Linked DNA regions of Homo sapiens. The protein of the gene in region 2 purifies or fractionates together with the protein of the main gene of each other region. This does not show direct contact. Each region holds a gene or a part of one and is shown on either strand. Other genes may lie near its edges. The genes, in order: TTYH1, SNAP25 and STX1B.

Region 1 (3,653 bases), on a different chromosome or scaffold from region 2:
TGCACCCCTCCCCACCCGGAAAGTCCAGAGACTTTCAGATTTCAGCCCTGGCACTGTCTCCCATTCTCAGAGGAGACAGGGCAGAGCCAGAGGCTGATCAGGCTGTGGGTGGACTTGGGGGAGCCTTCGGGGGAAGTGAGCCCAGAGGTGAGCAGTCACCGTCCCAGGGTCCTGGAGCTGGGATCCAAGCTGCGACCACCCAGCCCAGGGCCCTGCTCATACCCCACACCCTGCTCATCTGGGCAGGAGCCAGATGTCCAGCTGGACATCAGCAGCCACTGGCCTACCCCCAACCACTGAACTTGTGTTTCCCTAATTCTGATCCTCCAGGCTCCAGAGGTGGGTGGAGGTGGGGGGCGGCTGTGATGGGATTTGGGGTGTGGAAAGAGGCTAGGCTAGGAGATTAAGAACCCCGGGCTGATCCTCCCTCCCCCACTCTAGGATGACAGTCATGAGTCTCCTGGTTCTCGTCCTGAGCTGGGGCTCCATGGGCCTGGAGGCAGCCACGGCCGTGGTGAGTGCCAGGGCCGGGCCATTGGGCTCTGGGACTCAGGGGGCCTGGAGACTTCAACTTCTGGATCTCGGGATGGCATGGCTTAGTAGAGAAAGGAATTGGGGGGCACGATCACAGCTCTGAGGTTTAGGGCTTGTTTCCTGGGGCCTGAGTGGGTACAGATTGGTGTCCTGGACGTTTGAGCTGTAATGGAGGAGGGGCTGGAAACCTGGATTCCTAGGTCTGAGGGAGGAGGGGCTGGGGGTCTGGACTCCTGGGTGTGAGGGAGGAGAAGCTGGGGGCCTGGACTCCTGAGTCTGAGGGAGAAAGGGCTGGAGAGTCTGAACCCCTGAGTCTGAGGGACGAGGGGCCTGGGGCCTGGACTCCTGAGTCTGAGGGAAGAGGGGCTGGGACCTGGACCCCTGGGTGGGGAGGGGAGCTGGGGAGCCAGGCACTGGGTGCTGTGGGAGTGTGGAATCGGGGCAGTTTTGGGTTTGAGCCCCTTTTCTGCTGCCTCACGCAGGGCCTCAGTGACTTCTGCTCCAATCCAGACCCTTATGTTCTGAACCTGACCCAGGAGGAGACAGGGCTCAGCTCAGGTGATTTCCAAGGGCCCGGTGGGTCCGCCGGGTTGGGCAGTGCAGGCCCTGGCTTCCTCAGGCCTCCTCTGTGCCCGGTCCTGCCCAGGGTGGGGTGGGGGTGCAGCCTGCCAGGCGAGACCCAGCCCTCTGGAAGGGAAGCAGGGCTCCTGGCCACTCCCCAGCTCGGAGCCCTCCTGGAGCCCCGCCACCCGCCAGACCCTCATCCCTTCTGCTCCAGCTGGCAGCGCCTCTCCTGGTGGGCTGGAAAAGAGGGCAGGATAAAGATAATGGTGCCAGGAAGAGAGAGGAGGGTCAGGAGAGGGTGCTCCTGGGCGTCAGGAATGGGGAGTTTGGCCCCCTGGAGAAAACTGGGGAGCACCATTTAGTCAGGGGTTCCCAGGGAGTATAGGGTTGCCCACCAGCGCCTGCTCTGGCTGTGGCAGGAGCAGAAGGGACGCGGGGCTGGCGGGTCTCTGAAGGTAAGGCCATCGGGCTCCAGGGCTGGGCTGAGGCCCCTAACCCTGCTAACCCCCCAGTGCCCGGCCTTCCCCCGGGAGATCCCTGGGGGCCCAGGCTCATGGCCTCCTCCCCTCTCCTCCTCCCACTTCAGACATCCTGAGCTATTATCTCCTCTGCAACCGGGCCGTCTCCAACCCCTTCCAACAGGTTAGGGCTGCGGGCAGGGGAAACGGGTGTTGAGGGAGCCAGAAATCTGGACTCTGAAGGGAGGGGGCGGGGCTGGGGCTGGGGCCTGGACTCCTGGGTTCCGGGGAGGATGCAGGCCAGGGGCCCGAGTGCTGTGTCCGGAGGAGAGGAGAGAGGGCCGGGGGCGTATACTCCTGGGTCCTCCTCCCTCCCTTTCTCTTTCTGCAGAGGCTGACTCTGTCCCAGCGAGCTCTGGCCAACATCCACTCCCAGCTGCTGGGCCTGGAGCGAGAAGCTGTGCCTCAGTTCCCTTCAGCGCAGGTCGGTGGGTGGGCGCTCCCCAGACACGCGGACCCCACGGGGAAGGCGGACGGGGCGGGATGGAGCTGTGGGGCGTAGGCGGGGCTGCAGAGCTAGGCGGGGCCTTGGGTTGTGGGCGGGGACGCAGGGCGGGGCCAGGGCGATGGGCGGGCCTGAAGAGTTCGTGGGAAAACGACCCCTCCTCGCCCCGCAGAAGCCTCTGCTGTCCTTGGAGGAGACTCTGAATGTGACAGAAGGAAATTTCCACCAGTTGGTGGCACTGCTACACTGCCGCAGCCTGCACAAGGTGAAGCCCCTCCCCTCCCAATTTCTTCTCCCACGGGGGGCCTCTGTCTCGACCCACAGAACTACCTCCTCCTTCTCCTTGGACCCCTGCCATTGCGCCTGAGGATATCTCTGTATCCTCTGTTTATATGATTTATCTGTCCTATATCTATTCTCTACCTATTTATAACCTGTCGTCTACCTACCTATCAAGCATTATCCATATTCCTTCCCTCCTCCCTCCCTTTCCCCCCAACTCCCGCACTCCCCGCTGGGTCCCCATCCCACCCTCCCCGTCCCTTCCTGCCACCTTTTCCTTCCTTGTCTTCTCTCCTCTCTCCGTCCTCCTGCCTCTCCCTCCCTCCTAGAGGCTGCCGCTTAGTGAGTTCTGGAGCAAGACTGCCTGGGTTCCAGTCCTACCTCCTGACCAAGGGCAAGTCACCTAACTTCTCTGTACCTCAGTTAGTTCCCTCACTTATAAACCTGGGATTGCAAGAGTGGGCACCTGTCCAGCTCCCCTGCGGCTTGTGCTGTTCATACACTGGACAGGCAGGGGTGGGCAGGGTGCCCAGGAGGAAAGATATCTGGTGTCCTGCAGGCTCCAGTTTGGGCTCTGCCGCAGGCTGCACGGCCATAGGCAGGTGAGCGTGGCTGACTCTGCTTCCCACCCGTACCGTGAGGAAGGACGAGTTTTTTTTGTTTGTTTTTTTTTCACTGGATGGCTGTGAGGATTGAAAAAAAAAATCCCCTTATAAAACAGTAGGAGCTGGCCGGGCGCGGAGGCTCACACCTGTAATCCCAGCACTTTGGGAGGCCCAGGCGGGTGGATCACCTGAGGTCAGGAGTTCAAGACCAGTCTGGCCAACATGGTGATACCCCGTCTCTACTAAAAATAGAAAAAGTTAGCCGGGCATGGTGGTGGGCGCCTATAATCCCAACTACTCGGGAGGCTGAGGCAGGAGAATCGCTTGAATCCACGAGGCAGAGGTTGCAGTGAGCCAAGATTGTGCCACTGCACTCCAGCCTGGGCAACAAGAGCGAAACTCTGTCACAAACAAACAAACAAAACCAGTAAGAGCTGTTCTAAAACACACACCCGAGGATGCCTTTCCCCGGCCAGTCTTCCCATCAAAGACCTCACATGTGCATAGCTTCACCAAGTACCTGACCCTGTTGCATTTCACAGGTGGTAACTCATCGATGCCTCATAACAATGCTATGAAGAAGGAACTATGATTATCCCACCTAACAGGTTAGAAGATGAGGAGCAGAGTTGAGGGACCTTCCCAAGGTCACACGGCCAGCCAGCCCATGCACACTGAGGAGAGAGGGACCTTCCGGAGGGCCCC
Region 2 (3,653 bases):
GTCTGGCTTTTTTAATTTTTATTTTTCCAACTCCCCATCTCCTCCCTCCTCAGATTAAAAGAAGTTATATGGACTTTGTGATGTTTTCTGCTATGTCAAATGTCTGCTATACCATCTTTGGCAAAGTCAAAGGAGTGGGAAGTATGCGTTTCTGAAAGAAGGCAAACCACTGCACCCACAATGCTGCACATAGACTCACATCACTGCCGTACATCTACCATCGTCCCTTGAAACATGCCGAGACAGGGCGAAGCCCTCAGAGAGTCCAGGGCACCACCAGCCACTGCGTTGTGACACATGGTTTTTAAAGCATTATTTACACACAATAGGGAACACCTCAGTCAAGCTTTGAAGCTTAGTTTAGGGTCTCTTGTGCATTAAGGAAATTAGTGACCACTCAAAAGTGGAATTCGTAGGAGCCATCATTTCATTAGAACATCAGAATCCATCCCAGGGGACCCTGCCTTCACCCTTTCTTCACACACAGTTGATGAAGGGGGGAAAATGTATCTGTTGGAATTTATCATGAAATGGATGGAAATCTCACCTGGGGGCAAGTTGCCACTGAAAGGAATATACAGTCAAATCTTGACTAACTGGAATGCTTGGTAATGAGGCTTTTTTTTTTTTTTTCTGATGAATTATATGACTTTCTTAATGAACAGTGGGGCCATGGAGGAAAGTTTTGTTTCATGGATGATGAGTGAATATCTTTGCTAGACTCCTGAGCCACTTTCCTGCCTGAAAGTCTTAAGGTAGAAGACCTGATTGAATCTTTCCTTGGTTATCATTTATACTGATTGCTTGATGGCCTTTTCTGTGAAGATCAACTCTTATTGTTTGGTCCTCATAGATGTGGAAGTTGCAGGAGGATGGAGACTAAGTGAGACAATGCAAACTACCCTGGAAGAAAAACCATTTTACATTTCTGATGTGATTTTTTTTCTTTGTTTCTTTTTTGCTAAAAATGGAAGGGAGCAAGAGCATGCAGCTGAGGTTTCCAGTTAGCTAGATTCCAGTTAATCAGGCTTTACTGTAGATCACTCTTTAAAAAGCAGAATTTTTTAATTTTTTTGCAATATGAGCCCCTCCCCCTCCTAAACAGGAAGTGGGATATTTTAAATCAGCCTCAAAGTTTAAAGGATGTGAATGGTCATATAATCTGCTAAAAATGACGTCAATTTCTATTCTAAAAGCTAGGATCAGGAGAGCTTTTAGGAAAAAGTCTTCTTTTAGAAGGGGGAAGTGGGAGGGGTGAGGGAGATTGGATAAGGAGTTTAATTTTCCAAATGCATGTTGGGCAATCCACTCATGCATTTCTTTTTCCACCACTAGTCAAATGAGACAATCTTCCAGAACCCTCAGTTTTAGGTTCCTTCCATTGCAAACCTTTATAACCACATGTCACATTTCTGCTACATTCCAAAAAAGCGTTGCAGAACCTTGAGAACAGTTGAATGTTTTGTGATGTTGTGCATGCAAAATCTACACATTTCAACATTTCAGCCAGTGTACGGGTAGATCTTCCAAGGAGAAAAATTTGGGAGGGATGGGTCCAATTTGAGTAAGGCTTGAGCACTTCTTGCTGAAGAGCTCATTGCCTCTGTGTTGGGTGCAGTGGCAGCATCTATTGACAAAATTTGGCAACTGGTGGGCAGTAGAAAGGGAGAATCTCTGTCATATTCTCTAATTTATAGAATCCTTCCCTGGGCCAAATTACCTGTCTCTTTTATTTTGGAAAAAATCAAACCTTCGCATATGTGTTTCTCATCTTCCAAACTTACCCGCAGCCTTTTCTAAATCTGTAATTTTGACTCTTGGGGTTGGGGAAAAGGAAGTTCCCTGGGTGCCTCTTTCTTGAGGCTAGCCTCTGTCTCAAGGTACACTTTCTGGAAAATGTTGAAACGTTCATCAATAAAAGTTGCTGACAGTGAAGCTTTCACTGTAGTATGCCTGATTTTTAATGCATCAACAGTAACTCCTGCTAATATCATCTATGCTATGAGATGAATGCATTGGAGACGGTATTGATCTGTTCTGCATGCCACATGCTCATCCTGCCTATGAGCTTGGCAGGAATGAGCTTGTCAAGGCTTGGAGATGGGCCTTGGGAAATCAAAGCTTCAGGCAGGCAGGCAGCACCTACTTGTTACAGGGACACACACAAAGCCCGCAGAATTTTCCTAGGTCCGTCAAATTCTTTTCTGCTTCTTTCATGTCCTTATTGATTTGGTCCATCCCTTCCTCAATGCGTTCCAGTTGTTCTGATTAAACACAAGTATTTTATCCCCACAGAATGAAGCAGATGGAAAAGGACAAAGAAAAAAAGACAAAACTTCAGACATTCACTTTGACATTAAAAAAGAAAAAAAAAAAAAGAAAGAAAACTGGACGCCACAGATTAGAGCTGGTACCCAGTACCTACTTGTTACAAGGACATATGAAAAGGCCACAGCATTTCCCTAAATCTTTTAAATTTTTCTCAGCCTCCTTCATGTCTTGGTTGATATGGTTCATGCCTTCTTCGACACGATCGAGTTGTTCTGGTTAGGACAAAGGGATGACAGTGTGGAATGAATTTTTTGGGGGTCTCCAACAGAACATGAGAAATGACTATGTGAAACAGAATTTGAAAGAGAGATATTACAATGCATTGTCCAAGAGGATGCATTGTTGAAGACTGCTACCGCTGCCCTACACAGGTATGGGTGGAAAGAAACAAACCAAACGATGCTCAAAATACTTTGTAATTCAACATGATGGGATGGGGTGGAAGGCCTGTTTGATTCTGAGTGTCCAGGAAAACAGCACAGCATATTCGCTTACTCAGGCACCAGTGAAATCCAGGAGAAAAAAAAACAGGGTGTTAGTTTATGTTTTAGGCATTCCAGTTTAACGCTACTAAGGAAAGGATCTGCTTCAACTTTAAAATATCTCCATCTTTTGGTTTTTAAGCATCCTCAACCAGATAAGGGTAGAAAATAGAATCCATTTTCTTCTTTGGAGACAACAGCAGCAGCAGCAATCATAAGCAATGGGTATGGATGTCTTTTCTTCCCCTAGCAGTGGCAGTCTAGCCAGAGGTAGCCATGGTCTGCACTTGATTGTGCATATGTAATTCGTAAAAGCTGTTTTTTAAAAAAAGAGTAACATCCACACAGCAACATTGTAAGTCCTGGAACATTGCAATTCCTCTATCATCCTATGACTTAATTGCTATGAATGTTTTGGAAGGCATTTCACTTCTCTGCCCCCTGATTTCCAAGTCTATAATGGGGGTCATGCTCCAAGCCCAGGCAGAGAGCAGGGAGAATGAATGTCTCTTTGGAAGTAGGATTATGAATTGGAACATAGGACAATATGGTGTCACTGCTGCCAGCATAGCTGACCTTAGTGTATCTAAGTACATAGATCAATAGTCATAAAAATGAATCATACTTCTAGGTTGCCAAGGTTACATACACCAACTTGATTAATTTTTTTGAATTGTATCACCAAATTGAGATAACTACAAGTTCAATGAAAGGATTTTTAAAACAGCTTTAAAAGACCATTAAAGGAAGGCAGCAATGGATGTCTTCGCTGGCTAATTACAAAACCTAATTACATTTCCATTCCTCTTTTCATCTGTATTTTCATGCATGCATGCCTGT
Region 3 (2,594 bases), on a different chromosome or scaffold from region 2:
TGCCTCATCAGTAACATTCCTACAAGTAGCCCTTTCCTTCCAGGAGGCATTCGTGTGATCCCCGCACCCATGCCAGCGTGCATGGTTTGTGCCTGGTATGGCCCCTGCCTGGGGCCACCTCGGCCTTGCCACGTGTGAGCACACTGAGGGGTACCAGCTTCCAGGGGCTCGGGGCTATGCTGGGCAGAGACATGGAGGAAGATGAGGATCTAGGTGTGAGCATGCAGAGCCCTGAGGCTGGGCAGGCAGGGAGCTCTGCCTGCACAATGATGTAGCCGTGTGTGGCCACACCAGCACTGGGCAGCACCTCTGGGGAGGGGGGCAGGGCAAGGACAACTGGAGAGACAAAGCCAGATGGGGCCACGTCCTTAGAAGTGTGTGTGCACGCACGTGTGTGTGTGTGTGTGTAATACGCAGGGCAGAAACACACCATGTAGGTCAGGCAGGACAGAAACACATCATGTAGGCCAGGCGTGGTGGCTCAGGCCTGTAATGCCAGCACTTAGGGAGGCCAAAGTGGGCGGATCACCTGAGGTCAGGAGTTCGAGACCAGCCTGGCCAACATGTCAAAACCTCATCTCTACTAAAATTCTAAAATTAGCCAGGCGTGGTGGCAGGCGCCTGTAGTCCCAGCTACTTGGGAGGCTGAGGCATGAGAATCGCTTGCGTCAGGGAGGCACAGGTTGCAGTGAGCTGAGATTGCGCCACTGCACTCCAGCCTGGGTGACAGAGCAAGACTCCGTCTCGAAAAAAACAAAAAACAAAAAACAAAAAAAAATTAAAAAGCACACCATGTAGAGAGCCCCTAACACACACACACACGTGCATACACACGCACGCCACACACACACAGCTGCATTCTAGGTAGCAAGAAATACACATTTCTGTGCCCTCCCAAAACAGGTGTCCAGTCCACAGTGTGGAGGGCTCTATCTGAGAAGACCTATCAATACTTCAGGCACATCCTGGACACACACACACACACACACACACACATGCACACCCTCCTGGGACATGCCACAGCCCCTGGGGTAACAAAGACATGGGGTGTCTGCCATGGCCTGTGTGTACCTGGGCCTCCCTGGATCCTCTGAGAATGTGAGTGTGAGTCCACACACACCACCTGCCTGGTTTGTAGCAGACACAAAGGGCTCAGGTATCAGTGGCTTTGTTGCTGTTGCATTAGGTTCAAACACTGAAACACAAAATTCCACGTACACAAATGGTGTGTCCACAGATCTGTGGTCTCACGCACGCACACACACTGTTCACAGAGGACAGAGAGGGCGTGATGGACTGCTGTGTTACACTTGGCTGCAGTCTACACAACAGCCCCGGTGAAGGGGGAAGCTCAGACCACGCACACACACCCAAGGTGGGGGTGGAGGGGGTGCTCTGGTGCATCACACACATCACACGCACACGCACGCTGGGGTGTCCACACGTCTCGAGCATGTGCCGGCGGCATGCATGTTGGTGTGCATGTGTAATCACGCCTGCTGCGATCTACGTGCGGGGACGGGGGGGGGGTCCATGGCCCGGTGAGGTCCAGGGACACCAGGGTCTGCCGTGGGGGTGGGGCTGCCTGGGTCTGTTTTGGGAGTGAGCCTGGAGCAGGGGATGGAGTGAAAGGGGTGGTGGGGGTATTGCTCCCGATGTGGTGGGGGAAGGGTCTGGGAGAGAGAAGGGTGGGGGGGGCCTACAAGCCCAGCGTCCCCCCAATGGATGACGCCAAGACCACCCCCAGCACCACACAGCAAATGATGATCATGATTTTCTTCTGCAGCAGAAAGAGGAGTGAGACAGGCAGACAGTGAGAGAGATCGACACACGGACAGATGCAGGGACAGACAGGGCAGAGGGTGGCAGGGAGAAGAGGGGAGAGAAAACAGAAACAGGAAGAGGTCAGAGCCAGAGATAAGGCCTCCCGCCCGCTGCCATCACTCACCTCAGCCCGGGCTCAGCCTTGGGCTCCCCCGCCTACCCCCAGGCCGCCTGCCCCGCTCACCCTCCGGGCCTTGCTCTGATATTTCACTGCTTTCTTGGTGTCAGACACAGCTCGCTCCACGTAGTCCACAGAATGTTCCACGTTGTACTCGATGCGGTCAATCATCTCTCCCTGCAGACAGAGGAGACATGCACAGGGAGGGATGGGGGCTGGGCTGGAAGAGGGGACCTCAGGCCCAGGGAGGCTCCCAGAGTGGCATGGGTGGCAGAGCCAGTACCTGGCTCTCTACGAGCATGGCCATGTCCACAAACATATCGTGCAGCTCGCGGATGCTGGTCTCCAGCTTGATGATCTCATTGTGCCTCGTCTCAATCTCATTCAGCGCCTGCTTCGTCATCTGTGAGTCCATTTTGATCTAGGGTGACGAGGGAGAGAGCTACAATCACCCTTCTCCGCCATGAGCGCCTCCACCGCAGTGGAGTGGCCAGGGTCAAATCCGGTGTCATTTACTAGCTGAAACCTTAGGCACATTATTCACCTGCTCTTGGCCTCAGTTTCCCCACCTAGAAAATGTGGATCATAACACTGCCCACCTCACAGGGTGGTTGTGAAGACTGAGTGAGTTAATATGTACACATTGGTCAGG

What was found.
Region 1: the proteins of SNAP25 (region 2) and TTYH1 purify together in Homo sapiens (co-immunoprecipitation; one study listed by IntAct). This does not show direct contact.
Region 3: the proteins of SNAP25 (region 2) and STX1B purify together in Homo sapiens (co-immunoprecipitation; one study listed by IntAct). This does not show direct contact.

What each region holds. Positions count from the first base shown.
Region 1 is NC_000019.10:54,428,866-54,432,518, forward strand, and holds part of TTYH1 (protein tweety homolog 1), read left to right. Parts: intron 1-441; coding exon 442-514; intron 515-1,016; coding exon 1,017-1,092; intron 1,093-1,684; coding exon 1,685-1,740; intron 1,741-1,947; coding exon 1,948-2,040; intron 2,041-2,233; coding exon 2,234-2,326; intron 2,327-3,653. UniProt on the Homo sapiens protein: Calcium-independent, swelling-dependent volume-regulated anion channel (VRAC-swell) which plays a pivotal role in the process of regulatory volume decrease (RVD) in the brain through the efflux of anions like chloride and organic osmolytes like glutamate.
Region 2 is NC_000020.11:10,291,772-10,295,424, reverse strand, and holds part of SNAP25 (synaptosomal-associated protein 25), read right to left. Parts: intron 2,544-3,653; coding exon of another isoform or gene 2,426-2,543; intron 2,265-2,425; coding exon 2,147-2,264; intron 1-2,146.
Region 3 is NC_000016.10:30,991,122-30,993,715, forward strand, and holds part of STX1B (syntaxin-1B), read right to left. Parts: intron 2,364-2,594; coding exon 2,226-2,363; intron 2,120-2,225; coding exon 2,009-2,119; intron 1,781-2,008; coding exon 1,700-1,780; 3' UTR 1-1,699. UniProt on the Homo sapiens protein: Potentially involved in docking of synaptic vesicles at presynaptic active zones. May mediate Ca(2+)-regulation of exocytosis acrosomal reaction in sperm.